Linked DNA regions of Homo sapiens: region 1 is linked to region 2. Evidence: fine-mapped expression QTL. A gene starts in region 2. The other region holds a variant in brackets. All regions are shown on one strand. Distances are between the middles of the regions. Region 1 overlaps KIN (Kin17 DNA and RNA binding protein). Region 2 holds the start of ITIH2 (inter-alpha-trypsin inhibitor heavy chain 2).

Evidence for each region. PIP is the estimated chance that this variant, and not a neighbour inherited with it, causes the effect. A credible set is the group of variants that fine-mapping cannot tell apart.
Region 1: its variant is the best candidate, but not a certain one, in a credible set for the expression of ITIH2 in cerebellum (GTEx, PIP 0.81).

Annotation. Positions count from the first base shown.
Region 1 is chr10:7,771,127-7,782,959 of GRCh38, forward strand. It overlaps KIN (Kin17 DNA and RNA binding protein), which reads right to left. Exons shown (of 13, transcript NM_012311.4): 3 at 9,138-9,181; 4 at 8,930-9,052; 5 at 7,712-7,893; 6 at 4,625-4,673; 7 at 3,705-3,765. Among named protein-coding and RNA genes, the nearest start is that of KIN, 11 kb to the right of the region's middle. The variant C/T (reference allele first, on the strand shown) is at 5,420.
Region 2 is chr10:7,699,399-7,707,398 of GRCh38, forward strand. ITIH2 (inter-alpha-trypsin inhibitor heavy chain 2) reads left to right here and starts at 3,918. Exons shown (of 21, transcript NM_002216.3): 1 at 3,918-4,120; 2 at 5,710-5,784; 3 at 7,803-7,835. The coding sequence starts at 4,037.

The DNA.
Region 1 (11,833 bases), 74 kb after region 2:
GAACAGGCCAAATCCACGTAAGATAAGCTCCTCAACTTGCTACTTAAATGTTCTTTAGATTTAGGTGTACTTTGAACTAGGGATCCAGGGATAATTCAGATCATAATCAACTACAATATGTCTACAAAATAGGCACTAATAACCCTAGCAAAAGAGGAGTTAGGATTAAGCAGTTATTTTTGGCTTGAGGGATCACCACTTCCTCGTCTCATGTTCACAAACCACCTACTTCCTATCATAATCTGTTGGAAATGCTTATTAATCTATTGTTTTCTAAAGACTTTTCTCCACTTAAAAAAATATATTTGCTTATTTTTCTGCCTTCTGACTCCTCTACCAATCTCCATGATACCTCAGAGGTTCTCAACAGTGAGTCCCCAAATATTAATACATCTATAAATTATTTCAGTATTTTGGTATTAATCTCAGCTTAGACACTTGAGTTTATTTAAGGCTATTATTTACTCTTCTTAAAACTCAACTGGGCCGGGCGCGGTGGCTCATGCCTGAAATCCCGGCACTTTGGGAGGCTGAGACAGGTGGATCATTTGAGGTCAGGAGTTTGAGACCAGCCTGACCAACATGGTGAAATCCAGTTTCTCCTAAAAATACAAAAAAATTAGCCGAGCATGGTGGTGCATGCCTGTACTCCCAGCTACTTGGGAGGCCGAGGCAGGAGAATCGCTTGAACTTGGAAGGCAGAGGTTGTGGTGAGCCGAGGTCATGCCACTGCGCTCCAGCCTGGGCAACAAGAGCGAAATTCCGTCTCAAAAAAAAAAAAAAAAGAAAGAAAGAAAAAGAAAATTTACTCAGCATCATTAAATGCTTAGAATGTGACAATAATGGGGAAAAAGATGATCAGAAGAGCCCAGCAAGATCTCAGGGTGATGTAAAGGGCATTCCAGGAAGGGGAGCAGCAGATGTAAAGGCAAGAAAGGGCGAGACCCTAGGCTCATTTAGGAAAGCACAAATCAATGAGCACAGCTGAGAGCAAACGGCAGGAGACATACAGGATCACAAAAGTCACTTAATAGTATGTAAAAAAATTCGAGGTCATCTTAGAGATGCTGAAACCAAGAGATGTTAATAAATGAGTGACACGGTAAGAGCTGAAGTTTAGAAAGGTCCTTTTGCTGGCAATATCAAGATTCTGTTAGAAGGGTGAGAGACTGAGACAGGGGTAAGGCAGAGTTAAAATAAAATCAAGGCAAGATATGAATATGAGCAGAATGAAAATGGAAAGTAAGGTTCCTTGAACAGCCCTCATTTTTGCTTTCAGTAACTAGAGTGAATTCTAGCCTTTCTCAAAGGAGATAAAGAAGCCCAAAGGAGAAATGGAGATGAAAATCAAGTAAACTGTTTCAAGCAATAAGGGGGCTCATTTTTGTGCCTCAACATAGCCTAAAATGTCCACTTTGATATCCACATCATTTAGTTTTTCTAGGTTTTAGATATATAAGAGATATAAATGCACAGGAGAATGAATCCCAAACTATATTATGTACCATAATTTCAGAGAAAAAACATTTTAGATGTCTTTCAATTGTATTACCCATGACACTACATTCTTATACAAATATTGTTCCTTATTCATGGACTCGGGTCACAACATATTAACATAGATAACTTATCAAATAAATTATCAAAATTGGTCAAATAAAACTAATATTTTTGCTAATATCAAGGTTTGGCATAGGGGTACAGCAGGCTGTATAGACCCCCAAAAATGTCAGGTCCTTATCCCTGAAACCTATCAATGTTACATTATCTAAGAAAAGAGTCTTTGCAAATGAGAGTAAGTTAAAGATCTTGAGATGAGGAGCTTGGCCTGGATTATCAAGGTGGACCCTAACTACAATCATCCCTTTTCTTGTAAGAGCAAGGTGGAGGGAGATTTGACACCTGGAGGAAAAGGTGATGTGAGGATGGGGCAAAGAGACATTTGAAGATGCTCGTCTTAAATACTGGAGAGATGCAACCATGAGCCAAGTAACGCCTGCGGCCAACAGAGCTGGAAAAGGCAAGGGACAGATTCTTCCCCGGAGCTCAGATTCTTCCCCAGAGCACAGCCAGCAGGCTCCTTGATTTCAAGCCAGTGATACTGATTCAGAATCTGGCCTCTAGAATATGACCTCAACATATTTCTGTTGTTTTAAGCCACCCAGTTTGTGGTAATCTGTTACAGCGACCATAGAAAACTAATACAAGGGAGGTCAATTGGGGAACACTGGAACCAATTTTAACATCCATCTACATCTAGGAATAACACATACTTCAAAAGAACAGACAGAAATGCATAAAGTTCTAAAAGTATAAGGCATGTGTGTTATATTTGAGCCGATCTTCCAGGTCATATCATGCCAATGTTAGACAATTCTTCTGGAATGTACCCAGATGTAGAACCCAAATAACCAACTTCTTGATGATATCTAATGTAGGTGTTAATTTTGAAACATTATTTTGATCAAAGTTAAGACATCTGGCAAATCATTTTAAAGTTGATCTATATTGCTGATTCAGCCTACCTATCTCCTTCCATACTCCTAGCCACTTATTCAATAGTGTAAATAAACAATGACCTACAAACAAACCCGAAAAACTTAGATCTTAAAAAAACAACATGTAAAGTACTAAGTAAAATAGAAAATATCATCTGGCTTAAAAGCAAATTCCAGTAGATACTGGTACTTGACTCTCTTGTCTTACTCATCTTTTTTAACCTCCATAACAAAACTGAATGTACTGCATGTCAGAAATAGTGAATAAAGATTTGGTGAAAGAATACATAAAAATTGCAAGAGAAGATAATGTAGAAAGTAGGTAGAACTACCTGACCACATGCTATGCCAGGTTTTGGCAAACGACAGCCTAAGGGCCAAATGCCAGCTGCCACCGGCTTTTGTAAATAAATGTACTGGAACCCAGCCATGCTCAGTTCCTTCCTGCACTGTCCATGGCTGCCTTCTCACTACAACAGCAGAGTTCAGTTATTGTGACAAAGACATCTGGCCGAAAAGCCTAAAATATTTACTATGTGGCTCTTTACAGAAAAAGTTTGCTGACCCCTGCCCTGTGCTAGACTACCTAGAAGGGCGGGCAATGACTACTGAGTGTTTCCTGGTGTATTTACACTGTACTGGGGACGAAGGAGAGAGGTTGATAATCTCTATTCTCAGAAAACTCACAATGCAGCAAGTAAAAGAAAAATGCAGATCCAGCTAACATTTAAACTGTGACAAGTGGGCTAAGACAGGAAAAGAAACAGTTTTATATAGCGAATAAGGAACCGTTAAATGGAGAAGGATTCATGGAGAAGCAAAAGTTTATTGATGTGAAACATATAATCAAAATGAGGCTTTCCTCAAAAAACACAATCATCTCATAACAGGCAAATAGGAAAAGAACAGTTGCTAGCTGGGCACAGTAGGGCGTGCCTGTAATCCCAGCTATTGATACCTGGGAGGCTGAGGCAGGAAGATCACCTTGAGCCCAGGAGTTCGAGGCCAGCCTGGGCAACATAGCAAGACCCCATCTCTTAAAAAAAAAAAAAGAACAATTGCTAAAAAAACAACGCAACCAATAAAAACCAAAAACAGGTGAAAACTACAACTAGAAAAAAATGATTCACAATACTTTAAAATACAGTAACCAATATTTCACAAAAATCCTAATGTTTTAAGATATCCGTGAATGATGCAGCTCACCTTGACTTGGAAGATGTTGCTCCGGATGAGCTACATGCTCCTTTACTCAAATTAAACGTGACTAGAAGAAAAAAATGTTATTCCATACATACATTTCAAGAAAATCATAATAAAACTTCTCAGATAAGATACTACAAAGTGTTCACAGAGGAACTCCAGGACATTTTCAATAAACGAGAGCTAAAATGTTCCTATACGGAGACCACACATTCCTGTAAAACGTCCCACACTGAAAGCCATAGAACAGGAGGAACTTGCACACCGTGTCACCGTGGCAGACCACACCGGCGCTTCCCTGCTCTATCCCCATTTCCCCTGGGGAACAGTACTCCAATTCTGTTTAGGTCTCCACGCCTCTTGCCTGTGGCTCAGGGGACATAACACCATTTTCATCTCTGGGGTGAATTCTGATTGTCTAATCCAATCAACATAATCCCAGTGACTGCTTTTTGAGTGGACATGTGACACAGTTCTGGCCAATGACATTTGAAAGGAAATCTATTGAAGGGAGGAGTGTCTTCTTGGAAAAGTATCCTTGCTCTTAACAAGATTCTAGAAGAGCATCCAGAGATGCTCTCTGCCATCCTCACGACAATGCAGAATCTGCATGTGACGGCTGGAGTGTTGGCAGCTACCCTGTGTCTAGATGGCATGCAGAACCACCTTACCTCTGGGATTCTTATTATGGCAAGATATTTCCTTATTGTTTAAGTTAATTGTAGTCAGTTTTGTTACTTGTGGCTTCAGCTATCCTATCCAATCAATTCATTAGTATTACCTTTTCATTAAATTAATAAGAACAATGTAACTCAGACACATTCGATGTCTTATTCTCAGATATGTTGACAAGTTGCATTTTTAACAAAGCCAATATAAAAGCATCTATGTTTAAAAAAAGAAAAAATAAAAAATAAAACTACCTTTCTCTTCATCATTTTCTCTGCTTAATTCCGTAAAAGTAGGGACCTCCTAAAAAAAAGAAAGTTTTAAGGTTTTGGTGTACATTGCACTTACTATCACCATTCAATAGGCCTAAATTATGACTTGCTACCTGTGTTCCCAGGCAGCTCTAATACGCAAGTGATTAAGATCCTAATTAAGAAATTACATGCTTTCGGCCAGGCGCGGTGGCTCACACCTGTAATCCCAGCACTTTGGGAGGCCGAGGCGGGCAGATCATGAGGTCAGTAGTTCGAGACCAGTCTGGCCAACACAGTGAAACCCTGTCTCTGCTAAAAATACACAAAAAATTAGCCGAGCATGGTGGTATGCACCTGTAATCCCAGCTACTCAGGAGGCTGAGGCAGGAGAATCACGTGAACCCGGGAGGCAGAGGTTGCAGTGAGCCAAGATCATGCCACTGCACTCCAGCCTGGGTGACAGAACGAGACTCCATCTCAAAAAAAAAAAAAAGAAATTACATATTTTGGCCCAGTATGGTGGCTCATGCCTGTAATCCTAGCACTTTGCGAGGCCAAGGCAGGTGGATCACCTGAGGTCAGGCATTCGAGATGAGCCTGGCCAACGTGGTGAAACCCTGTCTCTACTAAAAATACAAAAATTTAGCCGGGTGTGATGGCGGGCGCCTGTAATGCCAGCTACTCAGGAGGCTGAGCCAGGAGAATCGTCTGAATCCAGGGGGTGAGTGCTGCAGTGAGCGGAGATCGTGCCACTTCACTCCAGGCTGGGTGAAAGAGCGAGACGAGCCTGGCCAA[C/T]TTGGTGAAACCCCGTCTCTACTAAAAATACAAAAATTAGCCCGGCATGGTGGCGGGCGCCTGTAATCCCAGCTACTTGGGAGGCTGAGACAGGAGAATTGCTTGAACCTGGGAGGCGGAGGTTGCAGTGAGCCGAGATCATGCCACTGCCCTCCCCAGCCTGGGTGACAGAGCAAGACTCTGTCTCAAAAAAAAAAAAAAAGAAAAGAAATTACATGCTTTGGCTGGGCATGGTGGCTCATGCCTATAATCCCAGCACTTTGGGAGGTCGAGCTCAGGCAGGAGGAATGCTTGAGGCCAGGAGTTCGAGACCAGCTTGGACAACATTGCAAGAGCCCCCCATCTCTATTAAAAAAAAAAAAAATTAGCCAGGCATTGTGGTGCACACCTATAGTCCCAGCTACTCATATGAGGCAAGAGGTTCACTTGAGCACCAGAGGTCAAGGGTGCAGTGAGCTGTAATCATGCCACTGCATTCTAGCCTGGTGACAGAGAGAGACAGTCTCTCAAAAAAAAAAAAAAAAAAAAAAAATAGAACTTACATGCTTTGCAAATATTATCCAATTGAGAATTATTCTAAATACCAAAAAGCAGCTTTTCTATGCCAAACTGCAGAAGTTTACCTATATTTTTATTTCTATTACAACTTAAACAGGAAGTAACAAAAATATAAGGCAATAAACTTTAGGAAAAGCAAAAGCTTTTTTTTTTTTTAAGTCTGTTCAAGAACAGACTAAACTAATGAATAATCAATCGTGGTATACTGGAACAATGGTTATGTCTGGGAGATGGGGTATTAATTGGCAACGAGCATGAGGAAACCCTCTGGGATACTAGAAAAGTTCTATATCTTTATCTGGGTGGTGGTTCCACAGGTTTTCTGTCACTCTTTCTACACACGTATATTTGTAAAAGTTCAGTGAACTGTACACCTAAGATTAATGCACCTCATACACTTTAATCAATGTATGTTAAAGCTCAATAACCAGTTCAAAAAACACTCAGTTTCACATACACACCAGGCTATATTTGCCTGCTCACACACAAGTGTTAGAATGTAAGCCACAGGAGGCAGGGCGTGGTGGCTCACGCCTGTAATCTCAGCATTTTGGGAGGCCCAGAAGGGCGGATCACCTGAGGTCAGGAGTTTGAGATCAACCTGGCCAACATGGTGAAACCCCGTCTCTACTAAAAATGCAAAAAATTAGCTGGGCATGGTGGCTTGTGCCTGTAGTCCCAGCTACTTGGGAGGCTGAGACACGAGAATCGCTTGAACCCAGGAGGCGGGGGTTGCAGTCAGCTGAAATCGCGCCACTGCACTCCAGCCTGGGCGACAGAGTGAGACTCCGTCCCCCCCCCAAAAAAAAAAAAAATGTAAGCCACAGGAGACAGTTTTCTGTATCTTTTGTTCACTGAGTATTCCCTGTGCCTACAAGAATCCTGGCACAGCGGAGGCGCTTATAAATATATGTTGAAATAAATGCCCCAACCTAGTTATTCTAACACCTCAGCTCCTTCCCTCCCCATTCATCTGGCTTGCACCCACTGATTCTTCAAGACTCCTGGGCACTGGGGTTGTATCCACCCTCAAATACTCTGTCCTCCCCAGGCCAGAGTAAACATTGCTTCTCTATGTTTCCACATGCTGCATTTACCTCCAGTACTGAATTAATTATAATCAGTTGAAATTATCTGTGTATATGTCTTCCCATTAGGTAGCGTCTCTATTTAGATATAAGGAAATTGAGGTTTGGAAATATTATGCAATTATACAAGATTATGAAGTTAGTATGTCAGGAATCAAACCAAGGTTTGTCAATGCCAAAAATGTGCTTTTGACACCAGGCTGGTTCTCCTCTTAGTTCAGGAACAGTGCCCACAGAACTTGATTCAACGCTGAAAAGACACAAGCTGGCTGGGCACGGTGGCTCACGCCTGTAATCCTGTAACTTTGGGAGGCCGAGGCGGCCGGATCACGAGGTCAGGAGTTGGAGACCGGCCTGACCAACATGGTGAAACCCTGTCTCTACTAACAATACAAAAATTATCTGGGCGTGGTGGCGGGCGCCTGTAGTTCCAGGTACTCAGGAGGCTGAGGCAGGAGAACTGCTTGAACCTGGGTGGCAGAGGTTGCAGTGAGCTGAGATTGCGCTACTGCACTCCAGCCTGGGCGGCAGAGCAAGACTCCATCTCCAAAACAACAACAACAACAAAAACAAAAAAGAAAAACCAAGCCATTGTGCTTCTTTAGACCTCTGGACGTTGCTTCTCAGGATGATGTTGCTTACCCACCTGTTCCTTCCCTTCCAGGCCTCTTCTCACTTGCTCTTCAATAAATTTGGCAGTTTTTTCTTCATCATCAAGGTCCTGCTTTTTCTTTTTCTCCAGTTCCAGTTGCCGGCGGATAGTTTCTGGGTCCCTGTCTATGTACTGAATATACCAGCCTTTTGGTGTCTCGTCCACTTTGCACAAGCCTTAAAAAAACAGCCACTGCCATAAATTAGCATACAATCAAAGCAAAACATAAATATGAATGTGTTTCACCTCTGCATATTTATTCATTCAAACACACACAAATCAGGCCGAGCGCAGTGGCTTACACCTGTAATCTCAGCACTTTAGGAGGCCAACACAGGTGGATCACTTGAGGTCAGGAGCTCAAGACCAGCCTGGCCAACATGGTGAATCCCATCTCTACTAAAAATACAAAAATTAGCTGGGCGTGGTGGTGCACACCTGTAATCCCAGCTACTCAGGAGGCTGAGGCAGGAGAATCACTTGAACCCAGGAGGCAGAGGTTGCAGTGAGCCAAGATCCTACCACTGCACTTCAGCCTGGCAACAGAGCGAGACTCAGTCTCAAAAACAAAACAAAACAAAACACCAAATACACTAAAACACATTCAAATACACAAATTCATGCAGCAAATGGGATTTTCCATATTTATATTTAATGAAATTTAGATACTGTATGTGAATTCAACCAACCGTGGGTGAGAAATATTCAAAAAAAGAAAAACGGATGGTTGCATCTGTACTGAACATGCACAGACATTTTTTCCTTCCCATTTTTCCCTAACAATAGAGTATAAAAACTATTTACATTGTATTAAATATTATAAGAAATCTCGAGATGATTTAAAGTATGTGGGAGGATGTATATAGGTTACATGCAAGTGCTACATCATTTTATTTTATATAAGGGACTTGAGTATCTGTGAATTTTGGTTATCAGCAAGGGGTCCTGGACCCAATCCCCCACGGATACTGAGAGACAACTGTATTACCTTGCATAGTATTTATTCAGTTCTATCTAAGTATTTAATGTCCAACAGTTATATGATGTTCTATTAACTTAAGGCAGAAATTATGCTCCCAAAATGGAATCAACTAACACGATGAAAAAGCAAAACACTGACCCAATTTTTTTTCTCTTTTCTTATCCCAAACATCTCATCCTATGAAGATTAGAAGTGGGAAAGAAAAAGCAACTTTAAAATCTCATTCTTACCTTCTCTGCCCAGCCACTTAGTAAAATCAGTCAGAGTTTCCCACTGAGTGGCATTCATGTGGATGTGCTCTCGGTGGCTGATGTATTCGTTGTAGACAATGTTGTTGTGGACCCTTTTAGTGCCTGAGAACAAAATATGACACTGATGATCATCAGAAGATTATGCCATTTATAAAGCTGTTATTTGCACAATATTTAAAATGTTTACCAAAGCGTCTCCTGAGAAGTTCTAGAAAGTCATTTCGGAATTCCCTAATAAAGAAAGAAAGGAAAGCATTAAGGTAATTTCTACAAACATATAGCATCATCTTTTTGAAATTTAAGCAGTAGTACAGTTTTTTGTTTTTGTTTTTTTTGAGACAGAGTCTCGTTCTCGTCACCCAAGCTGGAGTGCAATAGTGTGATCTCAGCTCATTGCAACCTCCACTTCCCAGGTTCAAGTGATTCTCTTGCCTCAGCCTCCCAAGTAGCCAGGATTACAGGGGTCCACCACCACGCCTGGCTAATTTTGTTTCGTATTTTTCGTAGGGATGGGGTTTCACCATGTTGGGCAGGCTGGTCTCAAACTCGTGACCTCAGGTGATCTCCACCTGCCTCAGCCTCCCAAGGTGCTGGGACTACAGGCGTGAGCCACTGCATCTAGCCAGTAGTATAGTTTTAATGTCCAAATGATATGTGAAACATCTACATGAATATGGCTATGAACCTTTAAAAACTGATCAAGGAAAGAACTCCAAAATATTATAGCTTTTAAGGATTAAGTTAAAAGTCAGTTGGGAGTTGAAATTTTTTGTCTTGGTAAAGCAGTCATAGAAACAGTTACCACATACCTTTGGAATGGGTCCTTCATGAAGTCTGTTAGTGCCACTGATGGTGGCATAATGACCCCAGTCTATCTATGACAACAAAACTGCCCTGATTCCACATGAAATTGGCACTTAATATGTCCCTCTGAGCTGGGTACACCGTATTAAGTGCTAGATAAACGTGGGTGAATAAGACATAAATCTTAACCTTCAAGGAGGTTACAATCTAGCATAACCAATCATAACAAAAGTTAAACTGAAGAAGAAGTGTAACAAAATACCATTGAAAGAGTCACAGGAGATGCCCAGAGGTGATTTCATTGTGGTCAGTGAAGGATAAGTAGAACCCTAGAGGTGAACTGCAAGAGAAAGCTATTTCCAGCTGGCACAGAAACATGAAAGCCTCACAGATCTGAGAAATGGCCTAATTTGACTAAAATTTATGGCTGATAAAAATGAGAGTGAGAGTGAGGGTAGAGTAGAATAAGGGAGACGAGGTGGCTGGGAAACCAAAATAAGGTTTGGCTAATTTTTGAAGTACCCCGAATGTCATGCGAAAGAGGCTGAGTTTTGTGCAGTCAATAGAAAAGCATTAAATAATTTTGTTTGGCCTGGGTATGATGGCTCATACCTGTAATCCCAGGACTTTGGGAGATCGAGAGAGGAGGATCACTTGAGCCCAGGAGTTCAAGACCAGCCTGGGCAACAAAGTGAGACCCTGTCTCTACACACACACACACACACACACACAGAATCAAAAAATTAGCCAGGTGTGGTGGTGTGCATCTATGTTCCCAGCTACATGGGAGGCTGAAGCAGGAGGATCGCCTGAGCCCAGGAGGTCAAGGTTGTAGTAAGCCATGACTATGCCACAAAACAAGACCCTGTCAAAAAAAAAAAAAAAAAAAAAAAATGCCTGGCATGTTGGCTCACACCTGTAATCCCAGCACTTTGGGAGGGTGAGGTGGGTGGATCACCTGAGGTCAGGAGTTCAACACCAGCATGGCCAACATGCCTAAACCCTTTCTCTATTAAAAATATAAAAAATTAGCGGAGCGTGGTGGCGCATGCCTGTAATCCCAGCTACTTGGGAGGCCAAGGCAGGAGAATTGCTTGAACCCAGGAGGCAGAGGTTGCAGCGAGCCAAGATGGTGCCACTGCACTCCAGCCTGGGCAACAAGAGCGAAACTCCCGTCTCAATAATAATAACAATAATAAAAATTTATAAACCAATTTTTTTAAAAAACTTGTTTTTATTTCCATGTGTTGATACATCTAACCCACATAAACAGAAGTTCTTGGGGTCTTCAATATTTTTTAAAAGTATAAAGGGGTCCTAGGACCAAAATGTCTAGAAGTTTGGAAAGAAAGAGATGGTAAGAAGCAAAGAAATGTTTATTAATGGTAATGATAAGAACAGCTAATCTGAATTGAATATAGGCACTCTTCTAAGCACTCATAAAGTGTTAATTCATTGACCTTCATATAAACTCTATGAAGGATCAGCAATACTTAGAAGAGGTTGCTATTTTTAGTGCCATTTTTTTTTTTTTTTTAGACAGAGTCTTGCTCTGTCGCCCAGGCTAGAGTGCAATGGTGCAATCTCGGCTCACTGCAACCTCTGCCTCCCCGGTTCAAGCAATTCTCCTGCCTCAGCCTCCTGAGTCGCTGGGATTACAGGTGCCCACCACCATGTCCGGCTAATTTTTGTATTTTTAGTAGAGACGGGGTTTTGTCATCTTGGCCACGCTGGTCTTGAACTCCTGACCTTGTGATCCACCCGCCTCAGCCTCCCAAAGTGCTGGGATTACAGGTGTGAGCCACCTCGCCTGGCTTCTTAGTGCCATTTTAGAGATGAGGAGAATAAACCACAGAAAAACTTAAGTAGGTCATCCAAAGGCATACAGTTTTTAAATGGAGAAGGATTTGAATTTGGGAAGTCTGAATGCAGAACCTATGTTCTTTGTCACAATTGTATTAGAATGAAAGACAGTTTTGTATATCTGAAGTGGAAGAAAGGAAAAACTAAGTTGTGAGAAATAATTTTGTAACAGTTTTATACTATGATTAATTTTCAAAAGAAGATAAAAACTGAGCA
Region 2 (8,000 bases):
CACTCTTCGCCCTGTTTACACCTTGGAGGGAGCCACAATTACTCATATGAAGGTGCTTCCCAGCCTGTACCTGAAATACCAGCACCAGATCTTAGTGTGATCGTGAGACCACTTCCAGATGAGACCCCTTCCTCGCCAGAAAACACCCAGACACCCTGGGAGGAACAGCAAAAGCTGCTACACTGGAATTGACCTATCGTGGCTGGTCACATGTCTACTCTACTCTCGATTTCTCTACTCTGGCAATGGATTTGAATTTGAACTTCAGAGGTAAGGAACACAGAATAGGAAAGAACTGAAATGGCTCAACAGCAAAGCCACGTTTCCATGGCTTAAGAACCAATGAGAGAATCCGTTCCATGCTCTCTAACTTCCCATTTTTGGCTTGTGATACTGCTATTCAGTTTCAAATATTTTTCTTTTGAAACATCTTTATGTTCTGGCCTCAAATGATACAAACCCACACCTGGCCAGGCACAGTGGCTCACATGTAATCCCAACACTTTGGGAGGCCAACATGGGTGGATTACTTGAGTCCAGGAGTTCAAGACCAGCCTGGGCAACATGGTGAAACCTCACATCTACAAAATATACGCTCACACAAAAATCAGCTGGGTGTGGTGGTGTGCACCTGTAGTTTCAGCTACTCAGGAGGCTGAGATGGGAGGATTGCTTGAGCCCAGGAGGTTGAGGCTGCAGTAAGCCATGATTGCATCACTGCACTCCAGCCTGGGTGATAGAGTGAGACCCTGTCTCCATTAAAAAACTAAAACAGGCTGGGCGCGGTGGCTCAAGCCTGTAATCCCAGCACTTTGGGAGGCTGAGGCGGGTGGACCACGAGGTCAGGAGATCGAAACCATCCTGGCTAACATGGTGAAACCCCGTCTCTACTAAAAATACAAAAAATTATTCAGGCGTGGTGGCAGGCACCTGTAGTCCCAGCTGCTCGGGAAGCTGAGGCAGGAGAATGGCGTGAACCCGGGAGGCGGAGCTTGCAGTGAGCCAAGATTGTGCCACTGCACTCCAGCCTGGGCAAGAGAGAGACTCCATCTAAAAAAAAAAAAAAAAACAGAACCAAAAAAAACACACCTCTGCATTACAGAGGACAAAAAAATGTAGCAGAGTAATCAAATATCATCTTTGGAAATTCAAACAGACAATCCTTGAAGAAGATGTAACAAAATGTCTTCACAATCAGAGGAAGCCATCACAGCTCAACTATGTGTAGAAAACAGACCTGCTCCATGTTATGTGCAACCTGACCCACCAAACAAGCAGGTCAGGGTCAAATATAGCTATTTTTCTGGTGAATTCATCCAGCTTTGACTTTGGACTTTTACAAACATGCTCTTTCACAATGACAGGGCTGGAGCTGAATGCTATAAATGTGAGGCAGCTATTGTTATACTGTCAGCTAAACCACAATGACTTACACTCAGTGATGAATCTCAAGTTTGTTGATATTTCCCAGAGTTCCCAATGAGTACTAAATGTTATCTCTTTGTTCAAACATTATGAAATATTGTGATTTTTTTTCTTGTAGATTTCCTACTGATTTTCACATACGTGAAAGTGAATATTCTTGTGGCATTTATGGTAGTGATTTCCATCCTAGAAATCAGTGGATATATTCAATTCACCACGTCACAGCTGCCCAGGCATGATGGGAGGGGTTGGCAGTGGGGTGGGGAGTGCAAGGGGAAAGGGTCTCAGGTTCAAGACTCAGTAGCCTGAATACACAGCCTACGCGGTCGTGCTTCTGAACATTGAGAGAGAGAGCAAATGTTGTTTTGTTTTGTTTTGTTTTCAAGAATTTGGGATCAGGCTGAGCACAGTGGCTCACGCCTATAATCCCAACACTTTGGGAGGCTGAGGCAGGTGGATTACTCGAGGTCAGGAGTTTGAGACCAGCCTGACCAATATGGTGAAACCCCATCTTTACTTTAAAAAAAATAATACAAAGTTAGTTGTGGTGGTGCACGCCCGTAATTCCAGCTACTTGGGAGGTTCAGGCAGGGGAATCGCGTGAACCTGGGAGGTGGAGGTTGCAGTAAGCCAAGATCATGCCATTGCGCTTGAGTCTGAGCCACAGAGTGACGCTCCCTCTCAAAAAAAAAAAAAAAAAAGGACTTTGGGATCTGAAGACAGAGTATCAGCATGGAAAAAAGTCCAGCCTGCTTTTGGTTTGGTTTATTCTGAGATAATTCTGAATATCAGATTAAAATAATCAGAAAGGAAATGATCAATGGAAGGAGGTATGATTTTGAAAGTCACTGCTGTTTTTGGGAGAACATGCCATTGGGTTTTTTATTATTTATTTATTTTTTTCTTTTGAGACCAAGTCTTGCCCTGTTGCCCAGGTGGAATGCAGTGGCGTGATCTCAGCTCACTCTAACCTCCGCCTCCCCAGTTCAAGCAATTCTCATGCCTCAGCCTCCCAAGTAGCTGGGATTACAGGCGCATGCCACCACACCTGGCTAATTTTTGTATTTTTAGTAGAGACGGGGTTGCACTATGTTGGCCAGGCTGGTCTCAAACTCCTGACCTCAGGTCATCCACCCGCCTCAGTCTCCCAAAGTGCTGGGATTACAAGTGTGAGCCACCGCGCCCAGCTGCCATTGGGTCTTAATTCTCCAGAAACAGTATCTCAGTCAAGAATGCAAAGCTGTGGCAGGATTTTTCCATGAGGGGTCCACTGAGGCACTCACTGGCCAAGGTGGGCGCTCAACTAGTCCAACCTAGGCAAGGGAGGGGAGAATCTGTTTTCTCCCTTCCATTATTTCAGAAGTTATGTTTCTCCAGCAGACACACGGCTGTGCAATTTCGAAGACTGAGGGGAAACTAGGGAGGAAAATGCAGAAAACTCTCTGTTGCATGCCCTGTGAATTGGGCTTTAAATGTAGCAAGGAGCTCCAGGATCCCAGAAGTTGGCCTGGGGTGCTTGGTCCTGAGGATAAGACAACCTCCCTTGTATTGTAATTCTGCCCACAGCTGGAGCTTCCTATTTCAGTGTTGCATCCAAGAAGTTACATTTCCTGTTTGTTGCAAGAAAAATAGAATCTGACCAGGATGGAGGCTAGGCATGGGGGCTCACATCTGGAATCCCAGCAGTTTCGGAGGCTGAGGCAAGCAGATAGCTTGAGCCCAGGTGTTCAAGACCAGGATGAGCAACATGATGAAATCCCATCTCTACAAAAAATAGCCAGGCAGTGTAGTGCACACCTGTAGTCCAGCTACTCTGGAGGCTGAGGTGGGCAGATTGCTTGAGCCGGGGGAAGTTGAGGCTGCAATGAGCTTTGATCTCACCACTGCACTCCAATTCTGAGACTGGGGAGTATTGATTTGCCACTGACCTGAGCCCGGCTGATAGGGGCAGCAGGACAGACACTGTTACCTTAATCAAAGACATTCACGAAGCATTCTCACTGAAGATCTGCCCTAGTATCCTGCACAGCCACTTGCCTGGGTCTTTATAGGTAACAGGTAGACAGTCATCAAAGAGATAGGGGAAAACATGCACAATGAATTCTTTGCTCAGAAAAACCCTTCTGTGTCTTCTCCCACTTTTTCTAAATTTTTCCTGCTTTCATTTAGATCAAAGGATTTTGTTTCTTGGAATAGTTCTGCACTTGGTCCTTTAGAAAGGATGACAATTATCTGTAGGTCTCTCTGATTTTAAGATCAATAGAAATCAGCAAAAGCCAAAAAATAAAAAATAAAAATAAAATAAAAGCACACAAGCACATTCAAGCACATCCATCTGCCCCTGACTTGTCCTCACAGTAAGCAACTGCTTCTGACTTTGCTGTTTGAATAACCTCTGGGTGTTCGATCCACCCACACAGCTCAAGTTTGAGCTCCAGAACAAATATTTGTCCCAATTTTGAACAAAGTTAGAGAGTTTTTTCTTCTTTTTTCTTCTTTCTTAAAGCGAACTGTACTCCTCTGCTGTTCCTTTGAACTTGGTTCAGTAGGAAGAAGTGATATCCTCCCCAGACCATCTGCTTTGGGGAGCTTGGCAAAACTGTCCAGCAAAATGAAAAGACTCACGTGCTTTTTCATCTGCTTCTTTCTTTCTGAAGTATCAGGCTTCGAAATCCCCATAAATGGACTTTCTGAAGTAAGTACTTACAGATCACTCCTTGCTGTTGGCTTGTTCATGAGCTCAGTAAATCATCTATTGGAATCGCTATTCAATGGCCTTATTCTGTGTGTAATGGAAACTTAAGATAAAATTCATCTGAGTGCAAGTGTTTACTGTTATAATTACTGGAATGTATATTTACCTTTTAAAGCATTAACAGGTTTTGCATGAAAATTAAGTCAAGATCAATGGGCAGGCATCAGAGCGTAGCATTTATGGAGCAGAGCTGCTCACTCCTCACCTAAAAAATTGGGGGTAAGAATAGACCTAACCCAATGGTTTGCTTTGAGAATTAAATGACACAGTGTAAACTCTTCTAGCAGAGCGCCTGGACTAGTAAGTGCTTAATAATTACTAGCTGTTATGATGATGAAGAAATATTATCACTCTTTTACTAAGAGTATAAGAAAAGTCATTATCAAAGCACACTGTTTTTCATATCTAAGTGAACAGTGATATTTGTAATAAGAGCACTTTAAGTATTCCTATTAAAGCGGAAGATAGCAGGCAGGGTGGAAAAGTACAAGAATAATTCCCATGGAGTACAGGTCTCCACTTTTGTCCCTTAGCCATCTCCAATGTAAGGAAAGTCTTGGACTGAAAGTCTGTTTCTGAAAGTCATACAAGAGCTATTTTTATGCCAGAAAAGCGAAGCATGTTATGGGAACATCCCAGCAAATGCAAAGGCTTATAATACTTGCAGAGTGGATTACCTATAAAAATGCCAGAGAATATGACGGCATATTTACAAAGGGAAAATATCACTCTGTCTGCTTTGAAACTATCATATTTTCCAACACTTAAAAGCCACCAGAGTGTGTTAGAAATCTCAAATTGAAGCCAAGACATCCAAATGTGTTTGTGCTTTTTCAGTCATTTCTAACTGGCATTTCCTTTTAGAAAATACCTACATTTTTAACTTGGGGAGATGTATGGTTCATGTCTGTCCAGTCAGACACTGCAAATGCCTCCAGGGTCTACCCAGATACTTCCCCAGACACCCACCTAATCACTGGGTTGTTTTGATCTCTGTCTTACCACCTGCTGGCAAACTCAAAAATGAATTCCCATGTCCAACAAATGCGAAGGTGTTGTTACCCTCCATTTGGACACCTCTGAGACGTAACCAGCAAATAGAAATATACTAAAGAAATCATTTTATACAAAATTGTGATTGCCCAGAGGTAGAGGAAAGAATATAAAATAATGAATACCAACAGCTATCTCTTTGGCTCTAGATCTTTTGGAAATCATCATTCTCAGCAAAGTAACACAAGAAGGGAAAACCCAACACCGCATGTTCTCACTCATAAGTGGGAGTCGAACAACGAGAACACATGGACACAGGAAGGGGAACATCACACACTGGGGCCTGTCAGGGGGTGGGGGGCTAGGGGAGGGATAGCATTAGGAGAAATACCTGACGTAAATGATGAGTTAATGGGTGTAGCAAACCAACATGGCACATGTATACCTATGTAACAAATCTGCACGTTGTGCACATGTACCCCAGAACTTACAGTATAATTAAAAAAAAAAAAGTTAAAATCCTAATTTTTTTTAAGTTTGTAGACTATGAAGATCTTGTGGAACTGGCCCCAGGCAAATTTCAATTGGTGGCAGAGAACCGGAGATATCAGGTATAGTAAGGTTTACTCCCAAAAGGGGGAAAAAAAGTGAAAGAGATTATGGCAGAAGAAGACAAGTGTTAAGATGCCTTCTGCTAGATTTTCTTAAGAGTTTGTTTTTTAGCACAGAAGAGTCCAGACTTCTTACACCTTGGTGGAAGAGATCACCCAGGTGAAATAAAAAGAGAAACTCACACAACTGCTCAGCAGCCTTCACACCATAATGCTCAATTTAGTCCCTTAAAGAGTACACGACTCAGCACAGTGGCTCCCACTTATAATCACAGCATTTTCAGAGGCCAAGGAGGGAGGATCACTTGAGGCCAGGAGTTCCAGATCAGCCTGGGTAACATAGTGAGGCTCTACCTCTGCCACCCAGCTAATATATATATTAGCTGGCATGCACCTGTAATCCCAGCTATTTGAGAAGCTGAGATGGAGGATCACTTGAACCCAAGAGTTCGAGGCTGCAGTGAGCTATGATTGCACCAGCCTGGGCAACAGAGGGAGACGCTGTCCCCACTCCATTTAAAAAAAAAAAAAAAAAAAAGAATACATGGCTATGTGTTTTCTTCAAAACTTAAGATTCCGAAATTATTTCCTGCCTTGCCGGAAGGATTTCCTGTTAGGAAGACTTTTCTTATTTTAGCGATGACAGACACTCCCCCTTGCAGCCTCACAATCTCCTTCCTCTGGTCACTCTGAGGGCACCTGAGAAGGAGAATTGGCCACATTGGAAGTTGCAATCCTGGCGGCCACCAGCAGCAGTATAGACAAAACCCTCTAATTAAGGGGGTGAGTTTTCCAGAACACCAGGAAGGGCTTGGCTTCTTCCCCACGGAGCCCACATGCTGAGAGAGGAGGTATTTACGGAAGCAGCAACCCTAAGCTGATCAATGTCTTATTTTGTATGGGTGTGAATTTTTTACTTTCTGAAAATCCAGGATTTTTTTTTGTAGACTAATAATATTAAAATCCAATAAGCAAGACTTCATGTCACAATTTATTTAGCCACAAGAGAGAAAAATTTGTCATTGAGCATTGCATTCAAGAAGTCTACAAGAAGAGGTCAACCATTGACCTCACCATGTCACACAGCACAGAACCTCAGTTCACCCCGAATCAGGCAAGCTGAGCTTATATCCAACACCCGACTTCTTGGATCTATTATTAACAGCTCACCAAACATTACATGTTCACCCACCACCCTTAAGCCATTCACTTTCAAAGGCAAGGGAATCGCCTTTGTTCATTTCCTCAGGACAGTCAAGTGTATGGATAATCTCCTAGCATGGTGGTTAAAAGCATAGAATTTTCTAGGTGCCAGTCACTGTGTTTGCCTCAGGGGTTACACTGTGGAGGAAATACATGAAAATCCCTGCTTTTATGTAGCTTAGTTTAAAGGAAGAGACAGACTTTAGTCAAATAATCCCTCAAATAGAATGAATCATTATGAAACAAGGTGAGCACTCTGCAGGAAGGAATATGCTGCTGCAAAAACACTTAGTAAAGGAAACCGACCTAGTCTTGGGGTGTTAGAGATTTTCACTGGAGGAATTCTGCTGGAGCTGAGATCTGAAGGGTGAGTAGGAGTTCTCCATATGGGGGTTGAGGAACCTAGCAGGGGCACTGCAAACAGTGGGAACAGCATGCCCACAGCCTCATGGCCGAATGGAGGATCAAAGTCTCCATTCAACTGAGTAAAAAATAGAGCAAATAGCATCAAGGGGATATACGCTACCCAGGATGCATTTGGTTGAATATTTTTATTTAAAAATTACTTGTTCTAGCATTATATCCAAGAATGACACACACGCCACCAGAACTGGTTGAGAAACTTATTGAGAAACTCACCAGTGGGAAAATAGTTTTCAAGAATATTCAATATTTATGTCTCAACTCCAGTGAATGAATAACAGCTCAGTATTGAAGAAAAATAAAATTTCTTTTTTGACTGAGAAAACGGTTTTGGCTCTCAAGGTAATAAGTGACATACAGTTGAAGAATGATTGTCTAACTTCCTTTCACAGAGAAGCCTTCCAGGAGAATCGGAAGAAATGATGGTAAGTTGACTTGATGTTGTTACAGATTGAATGATTTTCCTGTTAATAATTACCAGGAAATCAATCTGGGTGTCTCTTTTTTCTTCATCACCGAGTATTTACCTGACTTTCGAAATACTGCCTTGCCCAACTGTTTGCAAGTGTTTCTAAAATTCAGCATTGAAG